4 linked regions of the Homo sapiens genome follow. The protein of the gene in region 2 interacts with the protein of the main gene of each other region in a pairwise test. Each region holds a gene or a part of one and is shown on either strand. Other genes may lie near its edges.

Evidence for each region.
Region 1: the proteins of ABHD4 (region 2) and COL4A5 interact in binary tests that used the Homo sapiens proteins (3 or more experiments, as listed by UniProt).
Region 3: the proteins of ABHD4 (region 2) and BNIP2 interact in binary tests that used the Homo sapiens proteins (3 or more experiments, as listed by UniProt).
Region 4: the proteins of ABHD4 (region 2) and REEP5 interact in binary tests that used the Homo sapiens proteins (3 or more experiments, as listed by UniProt).

Annotation. Positions count from the first base shown.
Region 1 is NC_000023.11:108,442,530-108,450,304, reverse strand, and holds part of COL4A5 (collagen alpha-5(IV) chain isoform 2 precursor), read right to left. Parts: intron 1-7,775. UniProt on the Homo sapiens protein: Type IV collagen is the major structural component of glomerular basement membranes (GBM), forming a 'chicken-wire' meshwork together with laminins, proteoglycans and entactin/nidogen.
Region 2 is NC_000014.9:22,600,939-22,608,713, reverse strand, and holds part of ABHD4 ((Lyso)-N-acylphosphatidylethanolamine lipase), read right to left. Parts: intron 7,048-7,775; coding exon 6,959-7,047; intron 5,325-6,958; coding exon 4,952-5,324; intron 4,790-4,951; coding exon 4,635-4,789; intron 2,928-4,634; exon of another isoform or gene 2,848-2,927; intron 2,293-2,847; coding exon 2,181-2,292; intron 1-2,180. UniProt on the Homo sapiens protein: Lysophospholipase selective for N-acyl phosphatidylethanolamine (NAPE).
Region 3 is NC_000015.10:59,658,136-59,665,585, forward strand, and holds the end of BNIP2 (BCL2/adenovirus E1B 19 kDa protein-interacting protein 2), read right to left. Parts: intron 5,986-7,450; coding exon 5,934-5,985; 3' UTR 1,011-5,933; downstream 1-1,010.
Region 4 is NC_000005.10:112,877,228-112,884,227, reverse strand, and holds part of REEP5 (receptor expression-enhancing protein 5), read left to right. Parts: intron 1-5,392; coding exon 5,393-5,442; 3' UTR 5,443-7,000. UniProt on the Homo sapiens protein: Plays an essential role in heart function and development by regulating the organization and function of the sarcoplasmic reticulum in cardiomyocytes.

The sequences.
Region 1 (7,775 bases), on a different chromosome or scaffold from region 2:
TGGGGCAACACAGCAAGACCCTGTATCTAAAACAAACAAAAAAGCGTTCCATGCAAAAATCAACTGGTTCAGCTCGTAACTCAAACAATTGCACAAGTGCTTTTCCTAGAAACAACTATCTTACTTCAGCGTACATAAGTGCTTTGTGTATACTTCCAATTTTGTCATATGTAATATTAAAAAGACATACACTCAAGGGTCAAAATTCAATTAATATAAATTAATGCTACATTGAGGACCCTCTGAGGTAAAACTGGCTTTCTCCCCCCTGAGAGTATGACGAATACAACTACTAAGAAAATGTGGTACACTGCACCAGTAATTTTACTCACCATCAGTGCAAATGTCAACATAGTGAGAAAAGTAAACATTCTTCGTATTTGCTATGATACATGTTTATGTCCCCTCCAAAAAAATTCATATGTTTTAAAATTATAATCTTCAAGGTGATGGCATTAGGAGGTGGGGCCTTTGGGAGATGATTATGTCACGGGGAGAAGCCCTCATGAATGAGATTAGTGCCCTTGTAAAAGACGCTCCAGAGAAAAAAACGCCTTTCCCCTTTCACCATGTGAGGTCACAGAGAGACCATAACATCTGTGAACCAGAAAGAGGGCCCTCACCAGACACTGAATCTTAGGTTTGATCTGCCTTGATCTTAGGCTTCTCAGCTTTCAGAACAATGAGATATAATTTGTTGTTTATATGCCACCCAGCCTGAGGTATTTTGTTATGGCAGCCCAAACAGACTAAGATAATATTACTGTTAAAATATTCCTCATGTTCTCTAATAGGATTTCAGGAACCGTAGGGGTCCACAGACCACAGTTTGAGAACTACTGACCTAAAAGATCACTAATGTCCCTCCAGCTCTAAAATGCCTATGAACAGTCAACAACTTTCATTTGTAGAACTATACAAAACATTCGTTTCCCTAGATAAGTAATATATCACATTTAACAAATACACCAGTTTCTTACAAATCTTTTGTATCAACTGATCCTGAGGACAAACTCATGAGGTTGTGAAATAGAAACTGTTTCTTCCTTCCCCCCAAAACATCATGAGTTTATTTACATATTTTCCACCCTCCAACTTTTCTAGGTAGCAATGTGTTTTGGCCAGACGCAGGGCAGGGAGAGGTGGTTGTGTGAGTGACTGGACTAACTCTACGTTTATGTCCGTATACCACTTGCCAATGTACTGGTGTAGGCATATACATATAACACGATTTCAACCAATGATAAATAAGAGGTGTTTTCAGGGTGGTGCTGTGGGACTCCTTAGAAAGTTTCCATTGCTAGTAAAAAGAGATACACATGAATAGTTCATACTCTCTTTCTAGTGGGCATTGCAGTGTCTGCATGTGATTCCTGGAACTGCAGCAGCCATCTTGAGAGTATGAGGGGCACTAATATTAGAGGGCAAGTTGATAGGCAGAGTATGGCAGTACAGAAAAATGGAACAAACTCTGGCCCTTACTAGTGTCATTATTTGGCTGAATTAATTAACTTTGGAGATAATCAACCTCCAAACTTCTTGTTATGTGAGCTAAAAATTGTTTTTATTGTTTAAGACAGATAGTGTTTTTTAGCACTTGCAAGAAAAACAACCTATCTAATATAAACAGACACCACCATGACTATCTTCCACATACAGAAACATTTTACTACATCAATTAAATTGTGAGAATATGGACAGAGAAGGACCAGTCCTCCTTTAGCAAGCTTTTGGAGGGCTTGTAAACACAGAATATACTAAATAATTCATCAGTCATGTCCCACTCCTAATACCACTGCCCCTCTCAAAGTTCCATATCTCTTTCAGTACTCAATTAATGTCATATACACTGTAAGAAATTTTGAAAGCAAACCAGCCAGTTCTCCTATATACAGGAAAAATATTATTTGATTGAATTATAGCATGATACAAATTCCTTAACAGAATTTCTTGAAGTCTTATTTTATTACTGTCAAAAACACAATTCCATTAACCAGAATAGAACTTGCTTGTAAATGGTACTTACATTCTCTACAAGTTAGTAAGCATCTGACATTTATAACAGATTCATTAAAATAAAAAAGTTAAAAATTAAATTTAGCAAAAGCCTGTTTCTTTTATAACATTTGCCTTTGACTGTCTTTAATTAATGAAAAGCAAGGGATTTAAGGTTCCCATTTCAACAGGGTAGCAAGTACCATCATAGACTGCCCTTTTGGTTAAAGGCCAGCAGAAGCTGCTAAAGGCACAAAGTGTGGGTGGACCTGGACAGACTATGGAGGTAAATAAGTTCAAGTTGCATAAAATGAGAATCTGGTTTGTTAAAATGAAAGAAGCCTATGTGTCACATATCACACTGAAGGTGTTTCTCTAAAATCCTCAAGAATTACTGCTATTTAAAAACAAATCTTTATAATAAAGATTTAGCTAAGTGTCTGGGTGGTTCATTTATAATGTTAATTAGAAAGAATACATTTTCAAAAATTACTTCTGTTCCGTAGCTGCTATCATCACAAGGGGATGAGATGATGGAATGATTACATTTGTAAAAGAAAATCATTAGAGACTAAGACCAAATCAGCCAACCAACTGGCAATCAATTGAGCATCAATTCCATAGTCACTGTAGTAGATAGGAAAGAAAAATTAAGTCTGTCTCACAGGCACTCTTATACACTACTGATAGGAGTATAATTGGTAAAACCATTCTGGAAAGTAATTTGGCAAGAGCAGATCCCTATCACTCAGGAGCTTAAAGTTCAGCTATTCAAATGCCACCTGGAAAAACCACAATGCATAACAGTTTGTGACTTTGCAGAGAAATAAATTTCAATTGCGCAAGCTATAGGGCTGGCAAACAGGCAATGATGTCATTTGGCTACTGAGGAAATGTGAGGAGAAGGTAAAGTGAGTATGTTACAAATTGGGAGTGGTACAAAATGGATGGGGGACCTCACATTCCGTATGTACTAACCAGTTTAATTTTCTAAAAAGAGGGAATTGAGGCTGTGATATTATCTCCCCAAAGTGGAAAAAAAAGATTAAGAATTAATGAAGGGAAGTTTCTGAGTATCACTAAGGGAGAGATGAAAGCTAGGGACAATACTAGGTAAAGACACAGCCATTTAAGTGTAAGCCTGAAAGACAGCTACAGTGCAGGGGCTGGTGAGAGGGGTGGGGAAAGTGGTCAGAAGGGGCTCTCATTTCAGATGCATATGCACAAAACTCTTCTGGGGGAGGGAGAATGTCAATGAATTTGAGTATGTTATACCACTGTTATAGCTGGGAAGAGATCAGTAGGAGAGGTATTTGTGGAGGGCAAGCTCCACCTTCTGCCCAGGGGAGAAAAGTAGGAGGATATATTGTGCACAAAATTAAAATTTAAGCCCTTAAGGATGAACGGCCTAGGCAGTTATGGTAAAGACTTATTAAAAGATGAGCCAATGGAGAGTCTTTCTTCAGAATCATCTTAAGTGACCAGTCACAGAAGGGTTTACAGAAAGGGCAATGAGAATTATTCAACTTTTCATCATGACTTTACTTTTCTCTATTATCTACCATGTATGAAATAGGGATTGAGGAGAATCTCATGAGCAGGTTCTAGAGCCTTGGTTTAAATCTTGGCCCAATCATGTATCAACTGCACGACCTTTGGCAAGTTATTTAACCAATGTGGGCTTCTGATTCCTTGTATATAAAAGTGGAAATAACATTAGCTACCTAACAGGATATAACATAGTAACCACTAAAAAAGTTACCATAATTTCTCTGTTGATATAGCCTTTTTAAATATCAGGGTCTACTGTATGTATCAAAGACTTGAAAAATACTTATAGCGTTTAACCCACTAATTCCCCATGAAGGCGGCTGTAGCAATAAAATAATAAAAATATGGAATAAGAAATGTTCATGGCAGCACTTCTTACGATGGCTAACAAATCTTGACATTTTAAAATATACTCTACAAAAGTGAACAGGTAAATAAATTGGAGTGTGTATAAATACAAGTTGTATGTAATCATTTTAAAATAACGTTTTAAAACTAAGAATGTTAACATGGGAAACTGCTTGATAAGTGATCAAACAGTAAGAAATAAAACTATATGTAGAATAAGCCCAACTTACTTTTTTATTTTAACCAACTTTTTTTTTAGTTATTAGCTAGTGTTTATTTAATCAGGTTTTTTAGTATTTTAAAAATTCAGTATCTTCATGAAATGAAAACTTTACCATAGCAATTGAAACATGAATTGTGCTTAGAGTTTCGTGATTCACATCCAAACCTTAACATATCATTTACAATTCAAAAATTGTACTCTTACAAGTCATTGTTCTATGCCAAATTTATTTTTAAAAACATATTATATATATAGGAAAGAAAATAGTAAAAACAACAATAATCAAAACACACACCATTATTCTGTGCTCAGCCAGCACAGTTCTGGCCTGCTGGTAGAACTGTGGACATATTTTTATTTTCTTTATGTTTTTCAAGTTTCCAACATTGAGCAGCTGTTACTTTTGTTACCATATAAAATCAACATATGAATTGGTTGAATGAACAAATATATAGTTATTGCTTCAAAAGGGACTTTAATCAAATAAAAAGAACAGATAAAATGTCATAAAACAAAATGCCTATAAGACCAAATACATGCAGATACGAAACTGGGAGAGGCTAAATATTACAAATGTTCAAAGAAAGGTACAATCAGTATTTGATACTATAATAAGGGAAAGTTTCACAGGACTATTTAGCTATTCTCACCAGTATGTAAACACCATGAAGGGAAGAACCTTGTCTTTATTTGGTTTTAGCCATAGTGTCTAGCACAAAATGATTTTGTAGGCAGTACACCTCCATGAATAGAAATAGAACAGCATAAATAGAATTTTTGAGTACTTAGAAGTTGCTGAATAAATATCTGCTGAATAAATGTAAACATTTGCTGGAATTGAGCAAAGACTTGAATCCACAAAATTCTAATCAAGATGGAGGGCCAAAATGTGTATGCAGTGCTCACGGGATTGTAGGAAAGCTTACCTAGGCTAGACTGGAGGGAGTATATTATAAACTGTAATGAAAAATAAGGTTGGATAAGGGAAAAGATCATGATAGGCCTTGAAAATCAGACAGGAGATTTGAGAGTTGATGTAGTAAGAAATGGTAAGTCAATAAATATAATGACAATAATGAAATCTAAAATTGATTTAACATTTACTATGGTGTCAAATACTATATGTTTTACATAACTTTTCTCATTTCATCCTAAAAAAAAAAATATGTGAGATAGGTGCTACGGCCTTCCTTTTGCCAATGAGGAAATTAAGTCTCAAAGATTACTATTTTGCTGAAAGTTACACATCTACCAGTCAGATTCCATGTCTGACTTCAGAGGCCAACCTCTTGAAGACTCTGTATAAGACCTCTACAAAGTCCACAAAACGTGTGAAGAGAAATACCAGAAGAGAATGAGATCATGTATATTTATTCTAGGGTCTTGGACTGGAATCAGATGTATCATTATGAATCCATGATTTTGACATATATAAAGAGGGACTTCAAGAAATCGATATAGAAACAGGTATGTGTGCATATATACATATATTTCCTAGTTCTGCCTGCTGAGAGGGCCTAGAGGCAATGACACCTCAGTAGCAATAAGCATGCCAAGCACCCAGATCTTGGCTTCTACATACCATTCTCCAATAAAAAGAATCAGAGCTCCTTGGAGAAAAGATTCTGATTCCAGAGTTGGGGCAAGGAAATTAAAAAATGAGTCTGGAGGCCAGGTGCGGTGGCTCACGCCTGTAATCCCAGCACTTTGGGAGGCCAAGGCGGGTGGATCACGAGGTCAGGAGTTCGAGACCATCCTGGCTAACATGGTGAAACCCCGTCTCTACTAAAAATGCAAAAAATTAGCCCGGCATGGTGGCTGGCACCTGTAGTCCCAGCTACTTGGGAGGCTGAGGCAGGAGAATGGTGTGAACCCGGGAGGCAGAGCTTGCAGTGAGCCGAGATCATCGCGCCACTGCACTCTAGCCTGGGTGACAGAGCAAGACTCCATCTCAAAAAAAAAAAGAAAAAAAAAAGAGTCTGGAACATCTGTGGTGCCAGAAAGTAAGAGGGTGCTTAAAAAATGATGGAGACATGTTGAAAGGACACAGGAGCCAATTTGAAGGGGCTCCTGTTGGCCAAATCTGGGTTTCAGCAAAAACAAAAAGTAGTAAGAGCATAATTCATTATAACCTATAGAATAAAACAAATATTCATTAAGTCCATACTGCTATAAACAGCTGAATAAATATATACATTAAGCGTAAAGAGAAAGTTTTTTATTACAGTATAATTCAATCAATTAATAAATGTAAAAATGTTGAAAATTGAAATCAATGTCTGGCAAATGTCACAACAATAATTTATTCAAGCCAGAATCATCAACATATGCTAAAATTAGTGGGCAAATATATGATGAGAAACAGGATATTTACATTGTCTCACAATATTGCCCTGCATAGTCTCACTTTGTAATTACAAAAGAAAAAATAGTGACTTTATAGTGAATAAACCTAGCAGACACCATCTTAACCAAGCTTTCAGGGATGTAAAGAGTCTCATGTCTTACATGTATAGACATCAAAAGGTAAATAAAAACACATGAAAAAATACAAACTCTTACACTGCCATGGGACAGATACATATATAGATATATGCATAAGACTAAAGATATATATCTATATAGTTTGTGAATAAAATTGGATATGATAGGTAGGCAAATTAGTACAAAAAAAGAACAAAACTAAATTAAGCATGTTAAGTAAAGTGTGTTACCATACACACATACCCGGTTGTTTCACAATAGACATGCTCCTGAAAAGTTTGGTGGACTTAAAATTAATGCAGTAACTGAGTAATTAAATAATCATAAGGCAAATCTTCCTTCAAAACAAATCATCTGTCACAAATTATAGTAGTTATATAAGTTGAAATGTTTACATATTGTGATTACATAAAATCATAAAACCTTCAACAGCATTTGCTTTTAGATTGCTTTTAAATAATCTCACTCTAGATACAGATACAGAGGTCAAACTCTGATCTTTTTATTCTAGGCCCAAAGCTATTTCCATTACACCATGCTGCTTCTCCTAACATCAGCAGGAAGACATGTAACCCCCATTATCATTTCCATTTCACCTCCTGTGTCCAAAAAAAGTGGCAGAGATCCAAATACTTTACACACCAGTAAATCTCTATAGACCACATACAAAGTAGGCAGTATAGGACAGTCATTAAGGGCAAAGATTCTAGAGTCAAACTGCCTGGATTCAAATTTTCCAGCTTCACAAGTTACTGCCTACATGACTGGATTTCTGGGAATGTATTCAACGTCTGTAATTTGTAGTTTTCTCATCTGTAAAGTGAGGATAATAACGGTATATGTCTCATAAGTCTGTTCTGAAGATTAAATATGATAATATGTATTATCATATTAGCACAGTGCCTGGCACATAGTAAACACTCATTATGTTATCTACATTAATAATGATGACAATGATGACAAGTTTTTCCTATGGAGCAATATACTTCATAGAGGATGAAGTGTTTCATGGCTACAAACAACACTCCTACCCTTGATAAATTCGTGCCGCTGGTCACAAGGAAGATAGTACGTTTAAAGTAGACAAAAATATCCAATCTACTGCACAGAAAACAACTTACTAACTATGTAAAATAAAACTAACATAATTTTACATACTACCCACATCCACAAA
Region 2 (7,775 bases):
AACAAACAAACAAACAAAAAACAACTTAAAATTTCCCAAGAAGGATGAAAAGGTGGTCGAGTGCTATGAAAACACAGACTGGGGATTTAGCCTGTTGGGGGTCTAGAGACATGGTCAGAAGTTCATCTGAGGTGAACGCTTAAAAGTGAGTACTATAGTAGTAAAAAGGGCTTCCTGAGAAGACTCTGGAATTAAAAATCAGTCTTCCAAGGGCTGGGGGAGCAGCAGTTTCTGTTAAGCAAGAAACAACAAATGCCAATGTAATCTATTTCACTCCCCGGTCATTTGCTCAGGTAGAATGAATTGAGGCCGTATCATGAGGTGTCCACAAGGCTGGGGCAGAGCCAGCTTTCTGGGGCTGGTCTGCAGCTTCTGCTAGAGATAGGGCAGGTTGGGGACACTGCTGCCTCCTAGGCTTGGCCTGTTTAGTACCATCAGATCTCCATTCTCTTTTACATGTACAGATGAAAGGGAACCTGAGTTCTGCCCAGGCCATCAGAAATAAATTTTTCCTTAAGATACTGCAGCACGGCAGAAAAAGCATGGAATTTGGAGTCAAATGAATTCAAATCCTCAGCTGTGTTTTCTTAGCAAGTCATGTAACCAGAATATACTTTAGTTTCCTCATCTATAAATGTAGAGTATTATACCTACTTCACTAGGACATCATTAGGAAAATAAAAATATATACAAAGCCCCTAAGTTTAGGTGAGATGAAGTAGATACCCTCAAACATGTTGGTCAAATTTCATGTTTTCCAAGGAAATGATAAGAGTTACCATGAGCTTGTCAGGGTTACAAAGTCAAAAAACTCAGGGAGTTACAAAATTGAGTGACGGTGTTTGGGGGTGAGGGAGCTGGTTGTCACTGATGTCACCTTTGCTTCCTCTGGGATGTGAATGAATTATAAACTTATATACTCTGTGGCTTAGGTTGGGAGGACATTGTACAGAACTAGGTCTGGGATGGGGAAAGTTCTGGGGAAAGGGCTAGGGCTGGGCCTGTGGGGCCTCAGGTGGGTATGAGACAGGCACTGAGCCCATGGGGGCTGAGAGAAGGGCCAACGGCAGGAAGACAGGGGAACCTGATTTGACTGCTGAGCTGGGAGTTTCTATACTACTGTTTGATCAGGGTTCTTCAATTAGCTGAGCTCATGTGGAATGCTGGACAGACAGCTCACACACTGCCCAACAGCTGTTGGGGTTTGAGGTTAATGTTCAGACAGTATTGCTGGAATGCAAATCTCTGCCTTTCTCATGGCTTTGGGCTCCCAACAAGTGACTTGGACAGCCCTAGAAAGGAGTAGGGCAGTAAGCTTGCCTTTGCTGAGATACCTCCCAGCAGCTCGGGGTGTCACCAACATGGCCTCGTGGTATCAGCCAGTCACAGGGCACTTCCACATAAGAGGATTACCTCCCTGACTGCCCTGCCATCCACGGTGCCCAAACTGCAGGTAGGTAGGCTTGTGGGGCCTGCTGTGTAAATAAGCAGCCCCAGATAGGAACTTTTCAAAGTTCTCGAGACACCCCCAAATCTCCCAAAGATGCAAAAAAATTTCTGTCTCAATGATAAGGCATTTCAAATGCACATAATTAAATTTTAAAATGCATGCTCTTTCATTGAGAAATTCTATTGGTAGTAATGTGTTCAACAGATACAGTCACATGTGTGTACAAAGGAATATGTACATGGAGGCCCTCTGAAGAAATGGTACATGTGCTATGTTAGACTGGAAATAATAAGGAAATGTAGGGACTACAGGCCCGGGACAGGAGAAGACTTCCTTTCCTTTTGAAAAATATCATGTTTTTGCTAATTATTTTTGACCTAAAAAAAGAAAAAAAATACCATGTTTGTATCAATTTTTCAGTTAAAAAAATCTTTTAAAATATTAATATTTTCCAGACTCTTGTTCATCAGGCCAATTGCATACCTGTAGGGAACAGGGAGGGCCTTCCTCTAGAGATGGGCAGCATGTTTAATTAATCTATTATCTTCTGTATTCCTTTGTGTCTGTCCCTGGGGAACTCTCTGGAAATGATCAGGCTTGCTAGTGCCTGTGTTTACCTAACTGAGTCAGAGCTTTGTTGAAGAAGAAATAAAGCCCAGAACTCCAGCAGCTAAGAGTTTTATCTCCTAACAACTGTCTGCCCCAAGCTGGCCTGGGGAGCGGCCCTCACCTGGGATTCTGTGCGTTGCAGTGGTAAATATACTCTGATATGGTATCATCTTCAAAGAAGTCTGCAAACTTGCGTTTGAAGTCCGGCCGGAATCGCTGCACCAGACCAGGCCCTGGGAGGGGATAGAAAAACACAGACAGGCCAATTTGGGAGGTGGGGCAGGGAAGACTCCTGCCTGTGTATGTTTTGAGAACTTTAACTAAACCTTATTTCTCCTAAGGGTTTGTTTGCTTTATTCATTTAACACTACAGCGGCAGAAAGAGTGCAGGAATCTACTGGGAAGGTCCAGGTGACTTCAAATCACAAAGTCAGCTCATTACCAGAGAATTTAGAGACAATCTAACAACACTGAGGAGCCAGGTTGTTTTCAGCTCAATGAAGCCCCGAGATCTTTCCCTGCAAGAATCACAAGCCCTCCCCATCAGAATCCATGGCTGAGATGCTCTTCTCTTATAGCCTGAGCTATGTTCTCCTTCTCCCAGACACCCTTATGGCCTTTTAATCTTCTGATGGTAGCGGATGGAACTAGACCACCTCCCGACAGCGCTCTCATTTTCAGGCCTGTATTAGAATATGTGGAGAGGTGAACTAAACACAATCGTGTCTCAGACTCAGGGCACTGTTTTACAACAATCTGTTCGTTTCACCTCATTATGGTATACATACATGCAACAACAGACTGTAAAAATGAGGTCTACTGGTCAACTTCTGATCCCTGATCTCTCTCTTTCTCTCTGGTCTTCTCTCTGTTTATGAGAAGCAAGAGGGAGGTAAGAAGGGGCTGGGTTGGGGGTGCCATGAGGATCTGCATGGGCCTGGCCCTCCCTCCTGCATAGTCCCTCATGGCTGCTGGCCAACTTCCCCAACTATGATAGCTCTGATGCTCCTGCATGAGCCTGGCCAGAGGTGAGAATAGGGGAGAGTAGCTCGAGCAGACCTTCTTTTTGGCAAAGGACTATAGACTCTGTTGGAGACCACGGTGCTGGGAGCCTCTGCCCACTTACTGTCCTTTGGCACCCGTGTCTTGGTATCCTTCCTCTCTCTCAGAACTCCTAAACTCCTATCTTCTAATCAAATGCTTTTTTTCTTTATCTGGAATCATTCTGTTTTTCTTGAAGGACCTAGAGAGATAACTCTTACTTAGCCATCAGCAATTAACTCATAATAATTGGCTATTGAATATTACTCTGTAAGCACAATCATCAGTACAAGACAGGCATCACCAATCTTTTCCATTGGAAAAGATTGCACTTTTCTGCTTTGCACTTCATCAGAGTAAAAAGCTCCCCAGCGGAGAAGGGTGCTGGCAGTGTGAGGTCAGAAGGCTGGAGATATTGATACTATTCATTATGGCTAGCTCCCCATGGTCCTCCACCTCCTTTTCTCCCTTTTACCCACAGAATTTGCTGACAGCTACCAAGTGCTAGGTGACACAGAGCAGGTGAAGATGTGGTGCTTGCCTGGACAAGTGCATGGTTCAGAGGGGCTTGCCTGCCACTGTGGGTTATGTTGGAGGCTTTGGTTCTGACCTCTCCCTGCTGCAGGTGTTGGGTGAACCACAGGGATGGGATCCAGTGGTTACTGGGCATGAATCACCAGCAGGTTTTCATAAAATTTCACACAGATTGGGTGTGGTGGCTCATGCCTGTAATCCCAGCACTTTGGGAGGCTGATGCGGATGGATCACTAGAGGCTAGGAGTTCAAGACCAGCCTAGCCAACATGGTGAAACCCCGTCTCTACTGAAAACACAAAAATTAGCCAGGTGTGGTGGGGTACACCTGCAGTCCCAGCTACTCAGGAGGCTCAGGCAGGGGAATGGCTTGAACCCAGGAGGCGGAGGTTGCAGTGAGCTGAGATCACACCACTGCACATCAGCCTGGGAGATAGAGTGAGACTCTGGTAGCTATTCTGCTCCACCTGTTCCTGGCATAGGAAAAGCTTTTCCCATGCCGATGAAGAGAAAAAATACAAAAAACAAAAAACAGGCCAGGCGCGGTGGCTCACGCCTGTAATCCCAGCACTTCGGGAGGCCGAGGCAGGCGGATCACGAGGTCAGATCGAGACCAGCCTGGTTAACACGATGAAACCCCGTCTCTACTAAAAACACAAAAAATTAGCCGGGCATGGTGGCAGGTGCCTGTAGTCCCAGTTACTTGGGAGGCTGAGGCAGGAGAATGGCATGAACCTGGGAGGCGGAGCTTGCAGTGAGCCGAGATCGCACCACTGCACTCCAGCCTGGGTGACAGAGCGAGACTTTGTCTCAAAAAAACAAAACAAAACAAAAAAACAAAAAACCTTCTCAAACCTTGAACAAAGTGATCTGGTTCAGATTAACAGCTTTAAATAACAAGGCTAGGCCAATTTCCACTTTTTAGGAATAAGTGGGAAAGACACTGTGGGCCTTCTAGAACGTTATAGCCTTCCTTTAAGGAGATACTACAGGCTACTCACCCCAGGGCCCAGCTACTCGAAGAACAGCCAATGGATTGGAACGTCCTAGGACAGATGCCACGGCTTTGACCCAGGCTGGGGGTGCACGGATCTCACTGGGGTTAGTTGGTCGGAGGGGAAAGCCCCATGGGTCCACCAGGATGAGGTGTTTAACTCTATGTTAAAGGCGGAAAGAGGAGAAGACACATTATATTCTCTGGTAGTTGCCATAGCCCCTTAAATCGCCTGGGAATGAGAGAAGTTTGGAAATGAATACTGGAAAGTTCCCAGTAAGGCCAGGAATTAGGTCACGAGGGATGGAGCCATCTCCTTATTACCTATCAGGGTACTTGATTGAGTAAGAAGTGGCCAGGAATCCTCCCAAACTGTGCCCCAGGAGGATCATGCTGGGGATCCCCATGGTCTCCCGCCATGTCTCTATCGATGTCACAAACTCATCCTCAGCCCCCTCCGGGTCCCTTGGGAATGCTGGCCTTGAGCTTCGCCCGAAGCCAAGCAGATCGAAGGTGTGCAGTGTGCGGCGGGCACTCAGTGAGTCCATGTTGAGGATCCAGAGACCCACGCCGCCCCCAAAACCATGCACCATCACCAAGGGGGTGCGGTCGTTTTGCTCGGGGCTCACAGTCACCGTCCAGATCTTATTCTGGTTTGGGAGGGATACATATCTGGCCAGGAACTTATTCTGGAGACCTGGGGAGGAAAGAATCCCATGGTAAGTCAATAAGTGTTTCCTGACGGCATCATCATTTTGCCTGGACTACCACTCTTCACATTCTCTCCATTCCCGAACCCTCCCCAACTTCCCTCAGCTCCTTCCTCTCACAACCCTCTGACCACTGAAAACAACTCTCTCCTTAACCAAACTTTAGGCAAGCCCTTCTGAGCCCTCTTCTTGACTAGGCTTTGACCTTGGCCCCTGGCCTGTCTTCCAAATGTCTAGCTCAGTCTTAGCAAGAATCCTGCAAAGTCAGGATGAGTAAGTCATACATCAGTTAGTAAGAATTCCTTCATATTTGATCAAGTTCCTCATCCCTCACCTTTGACCTTCCTTCAGCAATGATCCTGTTAAACTGGTTTGAAAAGAACTCCCTTTATCTTTGATATCTCCCTTTATCTTTGATATCTCCTCAGCAATTTTCTATCCACTGACCCCCCTCACCATGCTGCTTGGTTATAAATCCCCACTAGTCCTTAATGTATTCAAGAGTTGAGCCTGATCTCTCTCCCCTATTGCAGTAGTTTTGAATGATCTTTACCGATTTAATCTGTCAGAATCACTTTTTCTTTAACACTACACACTCTAAAGAATTCAACTCCAATCACATTTACAGACCATGTAGTCTGTACATAATAAGCGGGACCGTCTTATCCCTTGAAACAGCGTGCCCAGCTCCCTTTAGCCCCAGGTGGTAGTGACACCACCAACCCCACAGAGCTCTTGCATCTATTGCTCTTGAACCTGTGTGTGCTTGGGGCTTGATGGATGGACAGAACTGTGGTCCAGCCAGTTGGAGGGAGTGATGGGTGTGGACTGAGCCTCGGGTGAGAGACTGAGGTGGGGCAGTGCTTGTTCTGCTGGTGTGACAGCAGTCTCCCGGGAAGAGCTGCCTGGGTGAAGCAGCCTGGATCCTGGACAGAGGCCTGAGAGCTCTGGCTGCTGTTTGTCTGCACTTACTCGGGCCCAGAAGAGAAAGGGTAGCTATGGCTGGGGCAGTAGGGGTGTGGTGAAGATCATAAGGGAAATATGGGAAGAAGTGGCTTAAGGGGCTTGTTTGAGCGAGTGGCTGCTGCCGCTAGTGGGATGCCCTGCTGCAATGTAACAGTGCCGATGACAGCTGGTCTGCAAACCACAAACTACTGTGGTAACCAGATAGGTGGGGGGCCAAAACCAGGTAGAACACAGGAATAGTAACATCAGAGAATGCAAGATTGCTGGCCAAGGATCTGCAGGTGGTAAATCTAAGAAGTACTTGTGTGGTGAGAAGAGAGGAGGGGAGGAAGAGAGAAATGGGGGAGAAGGAAGGAGGAAGGGGAGAATGTACGTGTTTGTGTGTGTTAGCCGGCACTGGCATAGGGTTTGAGGTGAAGTTGCAGGAAGTGGCAGGAACTATCCACATGGCTAGGGAGATGGTGAGGAAGCACTATTATCAGATATGGTGCCGTCTGTATGCACCTCTTCCCTCACACAACTGACATCCTTTCCTCCCACCCCATACACACTGTTAATTAGGAATCAGTGGGCTCAATGTAGCAGGCTCTGGGAAGATCCTGAATCCTTCTTGGGCTCCATGAGGGAGGTGGGACAAGCTGTCCATTCTACTTACACTGGAGGATCCTGGCTTCCACATTCTTCAGCTGAGACATGGAAGTGGGGCGCCACGTGGGCAGCCAGCTACTCAGCCAGCCTTGAGACCTGGGAGGAGGAGACAGAGACACTCATTGGCAACATTGGAAAGAAACATTGATGCTCTTAGCCTTGCTGAGAGTTACAAAAGAGTTCTCAGGAAGCAGGGTGTTTCCTAGCCTTGAGAGACCTGCCCCCCATGGCAGGCAGCAGTTCCCTAGCTACCTGATAGATTGTTTCTTTTTGGTAAATGGGTATTAACAACATGCCCCTTGTTTCAATAGATATTCAGAACATCCTGTATATAATACTTTAGAGTTTACAAAGCTCTGTCACATTTATTATCTCAGCTTTCTAATTTCTCCTTGTTACTGATTATCATAATTTATGTTCAAGGAGATTAAAGGGAGAGGCATCTTTTAACTAATGTTTCAGTTATCCTTTGCTGTCCCCAGTACTAGCTGTTCCTTAACAGTAGGACAAATTCCCATGCCATCTGCCCTACTGGCAGGGCACTGGTTGGTGTTTATGTATGCCCTCTTCCAAGCCCCTAGAAGTGTGGAATACTGTGTTGTGCCCAACTGATCTCTCAGGTAATCAATCAGTCCAACCCATGGAGATGGGGTAGGCAGGGAGGAGGAGGTGAGAGACCTGGATTCAAGTTCTGTTATGGTTCACTGACAGGACACAGGTTCCCTCTGGTCTTGTTTTCTAGATTGTAAAATGAGTAGAAAGCTCACCTATGTCCTCACCTCTAATGACATGCGGTAACACAGATAACTCATCCCGTTTTCTCC
Region 3 (7,450 bases), on a different chromosome or scaffold from region 2:
CAAGAGCGAAACTCCGTCTCAAAAAAAAAAAAAAAAAAAAAAATTATAGCAGGGTAAGCAGGGTATCTTCTTTACCCCTCGAAACAGGGCTGCAGGCAAAGTTTTTAGTTTGTGACCAGTTCATGAAGAACTTTAATTTGGGAGAAGTTATATTTAAAATTTGCATCTAATATGCAAGATAAATACTTCACTATAAATTTCAAGTTTGCAAAATCACAAATTGTTTTAGGTGTCAGGGTGCATGGTACACTAACTGGCTTAAACCCAGCAGTCATGTGTAGAGCAGTTTATCCTACAAAATAGCTGAATAGTGATTAAAGAGTATGTGCAAAACAACAACAACAAAACCACAAAAAACACCAAGTGGTATCAGCTGGAACCTCTGAGCAGGTCTATGAACTAAACAAGTTCTTCTTATTTAAGCCATGTTTTCGGCCAGGGGCGGTGGCTCATGCCTGTAATCCCAGCACTTTGGGAGGCCGAGGTGAGCGAATCACCTGAGGTCAGGAATTCGAGACCAGCCTCAACGTGGAGAAACCCCGTCTCTACTAAAATACAAAAAAAATTTCGCTGGGCGTGTTGGTGCATGCCTGTAATCCCAGCTACTCGGGAGGCGGAGGCAGGAGAATTGCTTGAACCTGGGAGGCGGAGGTTGCGGTGAGCCAAGATGGCGCCATTGCACTCCAGCCTGGGCAACAAGAGCGAAACTGTCTCAAAAAAAAAAAAAAAAAAAAAAAGCCATGTTTTCATTTTAAGCCACTCATGGTTTCATCCTTGGATTCCCCATTAATTAAAAAAAAATCTCAACTATGAAACACAAAGTTTCATTATTGTTTTGATGTTAAAATAAAGCAGGCTGAACTCTCTAATCCCCAAAGAATAGAAGCACTTAGACTATAGAAAGGGAAACAAGTGTAAAGGTCTGAAATTATTTAAGAGGTTTATAGGATAATTCAAAGCAAAAATTTAGTAGCATAATGAAAGAAAAATGTGATAAAAAGACAAAGACGAACGTTCCAATTAATTTATTTAAATTCATTAATGTTGCAAAAAATATGATGTGCAACAAATCAAGACACAAGTTATATTCCTAACAGGTCAAAGAAAATATTACATCTCCTTAGTAAATCATGACCAACTCTGGTATTTCTTACAGGGACCACATTAATATCTTGCACACACAGACATCAGAACTGAATTTCTGACAGTACTCGGCTGGGCAACATCATCTTAAGAGTAGGAAAATATCACAGTACATTAATTTTGTCTAAATGACAGCAATGAACCTGTGGTAACAAAAGTATTTTTGGAATAGATATCAAAGTGTGTTAATGTCTTAACAAACTCTGAATTGTGTTCTGTGTGAATAGTGCTCCAAGGGCTGTGCAAGTCAGTGGCCCTGAACATCATCAATATTTACTAGCTAGGTTTACACAAATAAACAAGCAACTGTTAAACGGACATTAAACTTTACAAAGTCCACATACAAAAAGTGCAGTGTAGAAGCTGATGAATGTTATTTTCCAAGTTCCTCCTTAGCCAAACTGCATAAAAATTTCAAAATGCAAATATTTTAACTTCTTGTTAAACATGATTCTAAGACATCCTACAAGCCTAGTATCATTAATTTGAAAGCACGAAATGATTTTCATTTGGTGCTTACGTGCTTTATGTGAATTTTTCATAGCATTTTACTTAGTTCTCAAAACATAAATAGGTCTATTATAAATAGTTGCAACATACTGTTATATTCAAATTTTAGTGTCACTCCTTACTGTTAAACATGCCAGACTACTTTATTTTCAATTATCCTTTAGAACTTCAAAGGAAAGTTACATAACTGGGTCTCACCATTGATCTGATTCTAAGTTCATTCAGAATTTCAAGAAGGGCAGAGGGGGATGCTTGCCAGGTAATTCTTTTGTATTAGCTTAGAACATTTGAGTAGATAATACCCCACTTCCCTCACCAGTTGGCCTTCCCATTCAAGTCTAAGTTCTTGACTCTTTCTCGCAGCAACTCAAACTACACAATTCCTATGACCTATAACAAGACCAGACCTATTTTAACAGCAAAATAGGTCTAACTTGTGAGTACATACATTAATGCCTCTTTTTACTCTATCCCTCTCAGATTTGTGGTCCATTTCTCAAATGTCCATATAGGATTGGAGAAAAAACAGGCATGAAAACAAAATAGAATGGTGTAGCAATCTCTATTTTCAGCCTATCTCCTACTCCCATTTGCTTGAGCAAGTTTAACACTTCTCCACATATAACATGGAAAAAGGAAGGATGAACCTACCGTAACATCTCTACCAATCTCATCAGGAAACTGGCCTGTTCTATCTGATATGTCCTAATGCTAATTTATCACTTGAAGAAATATAAAAAGCCACTTCTGTATAAAACACATGTCCAAATTCCCTGAGCATTCACATAAACAGCCAAATAGAAATGTTATATAGTCTTTTTAAAAGGCCTCTATCAAAAAGCAGATCTCTTACCTTTTTAAATTCTGGAATTACGGTTAAAAAAATTCTAGCTACAGATATATGCTTGCCAATCAGCATATTTCAGTATTCAGTGCACTTACTAGTGATGTCCATTTTGGAAGACTAAATCAATGTTCAGCAACAGTGAAATATGAAAAAACAAAAAAACCAACCAAAAACCCTCAATCCTAAACTTTTAAGTGCTGTAACTGCTAACCTTCTCTGCTCGAACTTGCTTCTGTATGAAGAGACAAAGAAAGAGAAAATATGAATTCTTATCATGGGTATGTATTATCAACTTTTCCCCCTTCAATCCACAGTCTTTATTCACATACCTTGCGTATAGCCTGCAGGTTTTCCTGCTGCATACAAGAAATGTTACCATCAGCAGTCACATATGGTACTTCCCTTAAAAGGACACACATGGCCGGGCGTGGTGGCTCAAGCCTGTAATCCAAGCATTTGGGAGGCTGAGACAGGCAGATCATGAGGTCAGGAGTTCGAGACCAGCCTAGCATGGCGAAACCCCGTCTCTACTAAAAATACAAAAATTAGCCGGGCATTGTGGCGTGTGCCTGTAATCCCAGCTACTCAGGAGGCTGAGGCAGGAGAAATGCTTGAACCCGGGAGGCAGAGGTTGCAGTGAGCCAGGATTGCGCCACTGCACTCCAGAATGGGTGACAGAGTGAGTCTCTGTCTCCAAAAAAAAAAAAAAAAAAAGAGAGGGCACACATACAGTGGCATCTTAGGTAACAACTATGTCTTTATCTCTTTATAAAGGTTTGCTTTCTCTTACTTCCTACTTTTATCACTTTCCAATGCCTCTGCTAGACCCTACTTAGAATCATATTTCTTCATATCTCCCTCTGAGTTAAAGATTGTTAAGCTTAAATTGTGGGGTGAATAGAACGTCTTCCCTTGGTGCTTGCTTAGGAGTATGATCAAGCAGAACACAGAATCAAATTATTTCACATGAAAAACTTCTGACTAAAAAAGGGGCACTTAGAGCCTAGTGACAGAAGCATCAAATTAAGCCAGTTAAATTAGATCCATGATCCCAACAGAAAGATAAAAGTACAATCACATATACTTTCACCTTGGTCAGTAATGGGAAATTAAAATGGAATAATATGGGAAATGTTAACTTAGCTATAGATTAGAAACAACAGACTTAATAAATGCTCTTCCTCTAACCTACTATTATGATCTTAAATCTTATAAAACATTTATTGTGGGTACATCTCTATACCAGATTCCATTAAGGTGCAGGTTAAAGCAGGTATCCCTTTAGTTTACTGATTCACAGCACCTCATTTTCATTATATCCCAGGTGTTATCACTGTTGTCTCTGAATTTTAATGTTTAACAGAATAGTCTTCTACTTTTAAAAAAAATTCAGAAAAACATCACTTTTGCAACATGTATCTACAGTTAGGAGCAATGACTGCAAAATCAAAAATCAAAATAATGCAAAAAAGAGTTGAAGTTATTCTTCATATTTTTTAAACTGAAGAACCAAGTACTTAATGTGGTAGAAAACCACCTATTAAAAACCTCAGCCCATTTTGAGCAAGATAAAGATGTACAGATGAAAGACTACGTTAAATCGTCTACAAATATAGAATCTAATGACAAATTCAATATAATTGTTTATACATAATCCTTATATGGTAAATTCAGAAGGAATGCCTAACTTGTTATTGTTAGTTTGCTTCTTCAACAACAAGTGTTCCTAAAATGTGAGCAAGCAATAATCGTTTTGGCTCAATTCACTGTAATGACATTAGTTCAGGATCTGCCAAGAGCTGCTGGATCTGAGTTAAGTCAGGAGGCTGCTGAGGAATGTTTCATCCTGGGAATCCTCCAGCATCTCTCTCCTATAACTGGTTTTAAGTTAGCATGCCAAGTTTAGGACTGAGGAGGACAAAAAATATAGGAAAGTTCCCTTTTGTAACAGAAGGTTTGTAAGTACATGAGAATGGTCACAGCCACATGTGTGTTCAATCTAGGATAGACTAAATCTTGAAAGGTTAGCTCACATCCACTTCAATTTTGCTACTCTAGGCCACTGTTTTGTAAAATACCTTACAGGAAGGGTTGAAGAGTAGCCATGACCTTCAAATTTGGAAGGTATTATGCTTACCAGCTGTGTATGAGCCTTTCAAGTATATGACACAATATCAGATCAATCTGTTGTTTTAGAAATAATTTTGTCGGTAATTAAACTTTTTGTTTGGAGGCACAAACACAATTTATTTCAATGTAAAGGTACTACCAAATGAAACAGTTTAAATGCTTGTAACAAACGTGTTATCCAAAACAGCACAATATGATGATGCTAAGACTTACAAAATTAACCTAATTTACAGTATTGTCAAACATGATTTCATACAAACTTGAATAAACACCACATCTAACTAGGTCAAACAACTACCGAGTTCAAATAATTGATATGGAAGTATTTTGGTAAAGTGCCCATAGTGAGAGTTTAAAAAGCAGCCCCTGTTTTCTATAGAAAAAGTTGTGACAGTGAATAACTCATCACATTCTCTGCAATACTACTCAGCACTCATATACACTCAGGGGAGCAATACCCTGGACACATAGCTTATTTCACATTAGTGAACAAACTCAAGATTTTTATAAAGTTCTGACTTTGGGCCAGAAGATAAAATGTCCCATATATACATATATACAAACCCTAATTCCTACCCTCTTAAATCCTCTAGTTCTAAGAATGGCTTTTTGACTTGTCTTTAAGTTTAGAAAGGAAAAAGTGTGCAATGCGCTTGCATCTGTACTTGCTGAATTATGAAACAAATATGTTAAATGAGAAAAAAACCTTGGGATGGTACTAATACACTTCGATTATATACATGATCTTTGGGTATTCATGACAATCAGTTTAACCATCTGTTGCCTTATGAAAAACTTAATTTCCTAAGTTACCCAGGAAATGTATTTAACCATTTACAAAAACAAAAATTCTAATATGCACTTTAGAAAATCGTGGTCTTATATACCTGCATATTTCTTCCATAAGACAGGTACACATTAAAAAATATTGCTCAATGACATAAAAATATATATTATTTCTTTCCTTTGCCATTTATGCATATAAATATTTCACCGAAGAAGATGCATCATTCAATAAACAAATGCAAAAACTACTTTATATAAAGTGTGGTTCTCTATTTAGCAATATAAAATATAAAACGATAATAATACAGTTAGCTATTAAAGAGCTAAATTCAAGAAATTTGCAAACCAGTACAGCAGTGAACAGTCCCTTGTATAATACAAAAGTCCATTATGAAAAAGTCAAGTCTATTTTGTAACAGGTTACATAAAAATATGGGCCAATAAATGCATTATGAATGCAGAAACAGCACTGCTCCATCAGCACATTCTTCAGTCTTGTTTGGACTAGATGCCAAACTTACTGTTCATTTTTCGGTTCATCTTGTTTTCCATTAAGTTCTTGATCAACTCTGTTTAATGAAGAATATATAAAATAAGAAACCAGCAACTGAACAATTTTCTTTCTAAAAATAATGACTATTTTAGCATAGAATATTACTCTGTTAAAGACAAAGCTTTGCAAAGAAGCAGACATAGTAAAAACAGTTACCAAACATCATTTCCCCAACCAGAAAAGAGAATTTTTAAAGGCAGGAGGACACTGGCAAGAAATGTGACCGTTGTTTCTTTAAAGATTATAAAATACTTTACATACAAATGCATATAAACTTTTTTTTTTTCTTATTTTTGAGACGGAGTCTTGCTCTGTCACCCAGGCTGGAGTGCAGTGGCACAATCTCAGCTCGCTGCAATCTCCGCCTCCTGGGTTCACACCATTGTCCTGCCTCAGCCTCCCGAGTTGCTGGGACTACAGGCGCCCGCCACCATGCCCGGCTAATTTTTCGTATTTTTAGTAGAGGTGGGGTTTCACCATGTTAGCCAGGATGGTCTCGATCTCCTGACCTCGTGATCTGCCTGCCTCAGCCTCCCAAAGTGCTGGGATTACAGGCGTGAGCCACCGTGCCCAGCCATAAACTTTCTTAAAAGTTCAAATTACATGGCATATTAAAATCTTGACCTGTAACTTGGCTGTGGTAGGGATCCAGGTGGTACGAAAATGGCAGGAAAAACAACTCCCTCAAAAATGATTCTGTTAACTAAAATATGAAAATGCCATGAAGGCCACCAATTATCAATCAATATTTTAAAATTCAGTGATAAAAAATGCATCCTTATAGAACCCATAATTATTCTCCAAAACTTATTGGTACACAGTTTGTGAATGCCTTAAATTTGTTTTGACAGTAAGAAGCCTTAAGAATTTAACATTCAAGGCCGGATGCCGTGGCTCACGCCTGTAATCCCAGCACTTTGGGAGGCCTAGGCGGGTGGATCACGAGGTCAGGAGTTCGAGACCAGCCTGGCCAACACAGTGAAACCCCATCTCTACTAAAAATACAAAAATTAGCCAGGTGTGGTGGTACGCGTCTGTAGTCCCAGCTACTTGGGAGGCTGAGGTAGGAGAACCGCTTGAACCCAGGAGGCAGAGCTTGCAGTGAGCTGAGACCATGCCATTGCACTCCAGACTGGGTGACAGAGTGAGACTCCGTCTTAAAAAAATAAATAAAATAAAAAAAAAGAATTTAACATTCAAAAATATCTAATATAAATTAATTATTGGCTAGACACAGTGGCTTACACCTATGATCCCAGCACTTTGGAAGGCCGAGGCGGGCGGACTGCTTGACCAGGAGTTTGAGACCAGCCTGGGCAACATGGCAAAACTCCGTCTCTACAAAAAATACAAAAATTAGCCAGGTGTGGTAGTGTGCACTTGTAGTCCCAGCTACTCAGAAGGCTGAGGTGGAAGGATTGCTTGAGCCCTGGAGACGGAGGCGACAGTGAACCGAGACTGCACCACTGCACTCCAGCCTG
Region 4 (7,000 bases), on a different chromosome or scaffold from region 2:
AATGCCTTATAGGCCATTGTAAAGGTTTGGCTTCTACTCTATGTGAGATGTGGAGGTACTGGGGACTTTTAACCACAGAAGCAAAATGATCTGTCCTGTGTTTTAATAAGATGCCTGTGGCCACTGTATTAGGAACAGACTGAAGGGGTAAGGCAGGAAGTTGGGAGAACAGTTAAAAGGTTCTTGCAGTGATCTGGCTGGAGGTGATGATGGTGGCTTGGTTCCTTGTGTAGCAGTAGGGGGTAAGAAGTATCAGATTCTTGATATATTTCAAAGGTAGAAGTAATGGGATTTGCTTATGGATTGGCTTATGGATTGGGCATGGGTCAGAGGGGTTAAGGACAAGGACGAGCTTTTTAGCCTGAACAGATGGAAGGATAAAATTGCCACTGAGCTGGAGAAGACTGGGTAGAACAGGTTTTGTTGGGGTGGGAGGTTGTGGTGGGTGGGAGGATATGGAATTTAGTCCTGGACATTTGTTTGAGGTGTCTGTTTGTTAGATACCTACAAGGATTAGTCAAATAGCTAGTTGGATACAGGTGTCAAGAGTTCAAGAAACAGGTCTGGACTGGAGATATAAATTTGGGGGCCACAAGCTTATACATATTAAGCATGAGACTAGATGAGATCACGAAGGTAGTGTAGTTAGGAAACAGGAGGTCCAAAGACTGAACGCTGGGGAGTCTAAGGTTTAGAGACTGGAGAGATGAGAAGCAACTAGCAAAGCAGACTGATAAGGAGTGGCCAATTGAGGTAGCAAGAAAACCATGAGCGTGTGGTATCCCTGGGGCCAAGAACAGAAAGTTTTTCTTTCAGAGAGGAGAAGTGATCTGTCATGTTACATGCTGTCAACAGGTCAAGTAAGATAAGGACTGAGAACTGAGCAGATTTAGCAATGAGGAAGGTACTAGTGATTTTGATAACACAGATTTTGTGGAGTGATATCAAACTCCTGATTGCAATGGATTTGAGAGAATGAGAGAAAAGGGATGAGAGAATATAGATCTTTCTTTTGAGAAATTTCCTGCAAAGGAGAGCAGAAGAATGGGGCTATAACTGGAAGAAGGAATTATGGTCCTGAAATTTTAAAAGTTTTTTTCTTAAGGTAGGAGAAACAAAGCCTGTTTGAAAATTAATGGGAATAATTCAACAGAGCAAAAAATGATGATAGGAGTGAGAGGGTGAATTGTTGGAGCTCTGTCCTTGACCAGTGAAGGATCCAGTATACAGTAGAGGGATTGGTCGAAGAGCTGGAAGTTTATGGTAACAGCAGGGAAATCAGGTTTTATGGTATGCTGTGAGCACATGTGACTATGGGAGCCTACAGAAGTGACTTTCTAATTGTTTCATATTTCTCAGTAAAGTAGGAAGGCCAATTGAGAGAGGATGGGGAAGGAGACAATGGAAAGAGAAGGTATGAAATAGTTGCGAAGGAGAGGGACTGCTCATCTTTTTCTGTAAAGGGCCAGATAACAAATGTTTTAAATTTCGTGGGCTATCATGTCTCTGTTGCAGCTACTCTTCTCTGCCATTGTAGTGTGAAAACAGCCATGGACACTACATAAGCGAGTTTGGCTGCAGTGTGCTGGCCCCTCTAGGACAGTTGGAGAGTAAATGGACTGTCAGGCAGTGTTAAAGGCATGCTTGAGATTTGCGTTCATGAATTTATAGTGAAACCAGTTCTTGTTTATGTTTTTCTCCAGCCATACTCAGCTACATGGGTATAGCTACAGAGTAGGTGGAGAGTTGTGTCAAGGTTGTGATTTCCAGCAAGAACTATGAAGTGAGGGTGGGACTGTGGAGTGGTTAATGCTTGACAATGGAATTTAACCTGAGTAAGGTGGGAAGTGGTGGTGGAAGAACTCTGAATCAGGATAATAGCGGGAATACTCCATCATCATCTACAATGAGCAAAAAAGCAGGGTGGGGAGTGCACTACAAAGATAAAAGGTGATGGTGGCTGAGTGGGATGCTTGATACAAGATTATGGAGGGACTGCAGTATTGGTACTAACAGGGATCCTGGGAGTCAGTGCCATATGTAGGGTGGAATATAAGGGTTATTGGAGGGGAGGAACTAAGAGGTCAGGATATTAGAAGATCATCACATATGTCTACATGGATATTAAAATCATCAATAATTAAAATAGGAGTAGTAGGTCAGGTGCAGTGCTCACACCTGTAATCACAGCACTTCCAGAGGTCAAGGTGGGTGGATTGCTTGAGCTCAGGTGTTTGAGACCAGCCTGAGTAACATGGTGAAACCCAGTCTCTACAAAAAAAAAAAAACACAAAAATTAGCCAGATGTGGTGATGCGTACCAGTAGTCCCAGCTACTCAGGAGGCTGAGATGGGAGGATCACCTGAGCCTGGAGGTTGAGGCTGCAGTGAGCTGAGATGGCATCACTGCATTCCAGCCTGGGTGACAGAGTGAGACCCTGTCTCTAAATAAATAAATAATAGGAGTAGTGTTAGAAAGGAACATTAAGTTAGGAGCTAAAATCTTCAAGAACTAAGGCAAAGTAGCCCAAGAGTCAGGGATGACAGGGAAAGGGAAGGCTACTCAGTGATAGAATCTGATGACATGAGATTCTGAAAGTGGCAATGAAGAACAAAAACAACACCTACCAGATCCATTTGTACTAGGGTCATGAGAGGAAAGAAACAGCCACCACTTGAGAAAGCAGTGTCCTCAGGGCACAGCCAGCTTTCTCTAAGAGCAAGAAGGTAAAGGAAACATTCGGAGGAATGGATGAGGATATAGATTTTGCCAGTGATGGGTCTTGAGTTCCAGAGGGACTCAGATTTTAGAAATTGGAGAAAGGTTTTTGTGTTTTAGAGCTCTGTGGTAGTTAGACATGGGAGTTGTGAGGTTGCCTGACCATGGGGAAGTAAAATCCCAAGACAGTTCTCCAGCAGCACTGATGCCCCAGAAGTGGTATGTTCCCCATTTCTCCCTCACAGACCTCTCTTCTCTGGACTCCTATTTTTGGGCATACAAATCCAGTCTACTTGAATATGTTTTAGGTATTTTTTAACTTGTAGCCTTAACCTCCTCCCACTTTAGGATTGCCAGCTTTTTTTTTTTTTTTTTTTTTTTGAAACAGAGTCTCACTCTGTTGCCCAGGCTGGAGTGCAGTAGCATGATCTCAGCTCACTGCAGCCTCCACCTTCCAGGTTCAAGGGATTCTGCTGCCTCAGCCTCCCAAGTAGCTGTGATTACAGGTGTGGGCCACCACGCCCAGCTGATACTTGTATTTTTAGTAGAGACACCGTTATGCCATGTTGGCCAGGCTGGTTTCAAACTCCTGGCCTCAAGTGATCCACCCACCTCGGCCTCTCAAAATGCTGGGATTACAGGCATGAGCCACCATGCCCAGCCAGGATTACCAGCTTATTTTTAAGAGCTTTCTTTTCTTCTCCCTTCCCTTAGCCTAATCAGCAACCTGTGGTGATGTCATTTCTGTCTACTTCACCCACATTTCTTAGCCTCTTGGTTCTCTTAGATATCAATACTTAAAATCCAATCTTACTTTGTTATGACACATTCCTAAATAGGGGCAAGAGAATTAAAATAAGTTAGGAGGAATTTACATGCTGCCACATTTTAGACTTTTCTCAAAGCTTTTGGATTAACTAGGAATTTCTACAAAGGGTTAGTTAAGGGAAGGACTACATTTTCTCCTTTGCTGTGAACTTGGTTCAGTAATTTTAACTGAGCAAAGGGAGAGCAACTATCAGGCAGCTGGTGGACAAGAAGGGACTCCTTGGCTCTCATCACTAAGGCTCTGGCTCCATCAAGAACAGCTGCAGATTGTAAAATCTCACAGTGGGCCCTGGAGGCTTCTAGACAACCCCTTTCCCCTCCATCTTACACACTGTACTGGTTCTCATAGCACATTCCCTGCCACTTGGTAATTAGAAAGTGGAAGGCTTGGTCTCCTGCAGAAGTAAGAAAATATATTTTTCTTTTTTTTCTATAGAGATGGGCTCTCACTGTGTTTTGGCCAGGGTGATCTCAAACTCCTGGCTTCAAGGAATACTCCTACCTCAGCCTCTCAAAGCTCTGGGATTATAGACATGAGCCACCACACCTGGACAGAATGTTTTCTTGATGAATGTAGTGTCTTGTCACCAACTCAAAGACTTAGAGCAAACTCTTCTCATCATAGGAGAGAATGGTGGCACAATAAGAGTATAAATACAGATTTTAAAAACAATTTAGTATAACAACAATTTATATAGCATTCATGTTGCATTAGGTACTTTAACTAGAGATGGGCTTTTAAAATTTTTTTAAAATAGAGGTGGGGGGTGGGGGTCTCACCATTCATATTGGCCAGGCTGGTCTCAAATTCCTGGCTTCAAGCGATCTTCCCACCTCAGCCTCCCAAAGTGCTGCGATTACAGGCATGAGTCATTATGCCTGGCCGAATTTAAAGTATATGGAAGAGGCCGGGCATGGTGGCTTACGTCTGTAATCCCAGCACTTTGGGAGGCCAAGGCGGGCAGATCACGAGGTCAGGAAATTGAGACCATCCTGGCTAACACAGTGAAACCCCATCTCTACTAAAAATACAAAAAAAAATTAGCTGGGCGTGGTGGTGAGTGCATGTAGTCCCAGCTACTCGGGAGGCTGAGGCAGGAGAATGGCATGAACCCGGGAGGCAGAGCCTGTAGTGAGCCGAGATCGCGCCACTGCACTCCAGGCTGGGTGACAGAGCGAGACTCCGTCTCAAAAAATAAATAAGTAAATAAATAAAGTATATGAAAGCACATAGGTTATATGGAAATACTATGTATGCCATTCTATTTAAGGGCTTGAGCACTCACAGATTTTGGTATCTGTAGGGTTCCTGGAACTAATCTCCTCTCCCCCACCGCCCCCCCAGCCCCCCCCCCCAAACACATATATCAAGGGATGACTGTATTTCTAGTGCTGGGAATGAGGACTTCTCTGATTTGTCGCCATGGGATAAATATGATGACCTAGTTGTCATCAGATTGATAATATATTGATAAGTGAAATCTTACAGGCAAGCACACAGATACAAATAGAATTTGAACACTACTCTTAAGGAATCTCTGCTTCTTTCAATGCTTAAAGGAGAATAGAGGGCAGACAGTTTCGGTGACACTGTCACAACAAGGGGCTAGGCTAGATGACCTTCAAGTATTTTGCTCAAGTATTTAGGATTTGTGCTCTAAGAGGTACCTTCTCCATTTCCTGGAAACCCTCTTAGCCCAGACCACAAACCCCAACATGATCGCACCTGAACATGAGTCATCCAAGTTTTGTTATCTAGTAGCTACATTAGGCACAAAGCTTGCAAGCTTGCATTCCAAAGAAAGAGCTTTGATATATTTTTCTTTCCCTCCTAACAAACAAACAGCGAAGAAAGCTACCGTGAATTTACTGGGTGAAGAAAAGAAGAGCACCTAAACCAGACTGGATGGAAACTTCCTGCCCTCTCTGTACCTTCCTACTGGAGCTTGATGTTATATTAGGGACTGTGGTATAATTATTTTAATAATGTTGCCTTGGAAACATTTTTGAGATATTAAAGATTGGAATGTGTTGTAAGTTTCTTTGCTTACTTTTACTGTCTATATATATAGGGAGCACTTTAAACTTAATGCAGTGGGCAGTGTCCACGTTTTTGGAAAATGTATTTTGCCTCTGGGTAGGAAAAGATGTATGTTGCTATCCTGCAGGAAATATAAACTTAAAATAAAATTATATACCCCACAGGCTGTGTACTTTACTGGGCTCTCCCTGCACGCATTTTCTCTGTAGTTACATTTAGGATAATCTTTATGGTTCTACTTCCTGTAATGTACAATTTTATATAATTCTGAAATGTTTTTAATGTATTTGTGCACATGTACATATGGAAATGTTACTGTCTGACTACAACATGCATCATGCTCATGGGGAGGGAGCAGGGGAAGGTTGTATGTGTCATTTATAACTTCTGTACAGTAAGACCACCTGCCAAAAGCTGGAGGAACCATTGTGCTGGTGTGGTCTACTAAATAATACTTTAGGAAATACGTGATTAATATGCAAGTGAACAAAGTGAGAAATGAAATCGAATGGAGATTGGCCTGGTTGTTTCCGTAGTATATGGCATATGAATACCAGGATAGCTTTATAAAGCAGTTAGTTAGTTAGTTACTCACTCTAGTGATAAATCGGGAAATTTACACACACACACACACACACACACACACACACACACACACAGAGTAACCTGTAACTCTCAATTCCCTGAAAAACTAGTAATACTGTCTTATCTGCTATAAACTTTACATATTTGTCTATTGTCAAGATGCTACAATGGAAACCATTTCTGGTTTTATCTTCAAAGCGGAGAAACATGTTGATTTAGTCTTCTTTCCCAATCTTCTTTTTTAAACCAGTTTAAGGAACTTCTGAAGATTTGTCCACCTCTGATTACATGTATGTTCTTGTTTGTATCATTAGCAACAACATGCTAATGACGACACCTAGCTCTAAGAGCAATTCTGGGAGAATGAAAGGAAGTATAAAGTAACCCATAATCTGCTTGGCAATAGTTAAGTCAATCTATCTTCAGTTTTTCTCTGGCCTTTAAGGTCAAACACAAGAGGCTTCCCTAGTTTACAAGTCAGAGTCACTTGTAGTCCATTTAAATGCCCTCATCCGTATTCTTTGTGTTGATAAGCTGCACATGACTACATAGTAAGTACAGAACAGTAAAGTTAAAACGGATGTCTCCATTGATCTGCCAAATCGTTATAGAGAGCAATTTGTCTGGACTAGAAAATCTGAGTTTTACACCATACTGTTAAGAGTCCTTTTGAATTAAACTCGACTAAAACAAGTGTATAACTAAACTAACAAGATTAAATATCCAGCCAGTACAGTATTTTTTAAGGCAAATAAAGATGATTAGCTCACCTTGAGATAACAATCAGGTAAGATCATAACAATGTCTCATGATGTAAAAAATATTAAA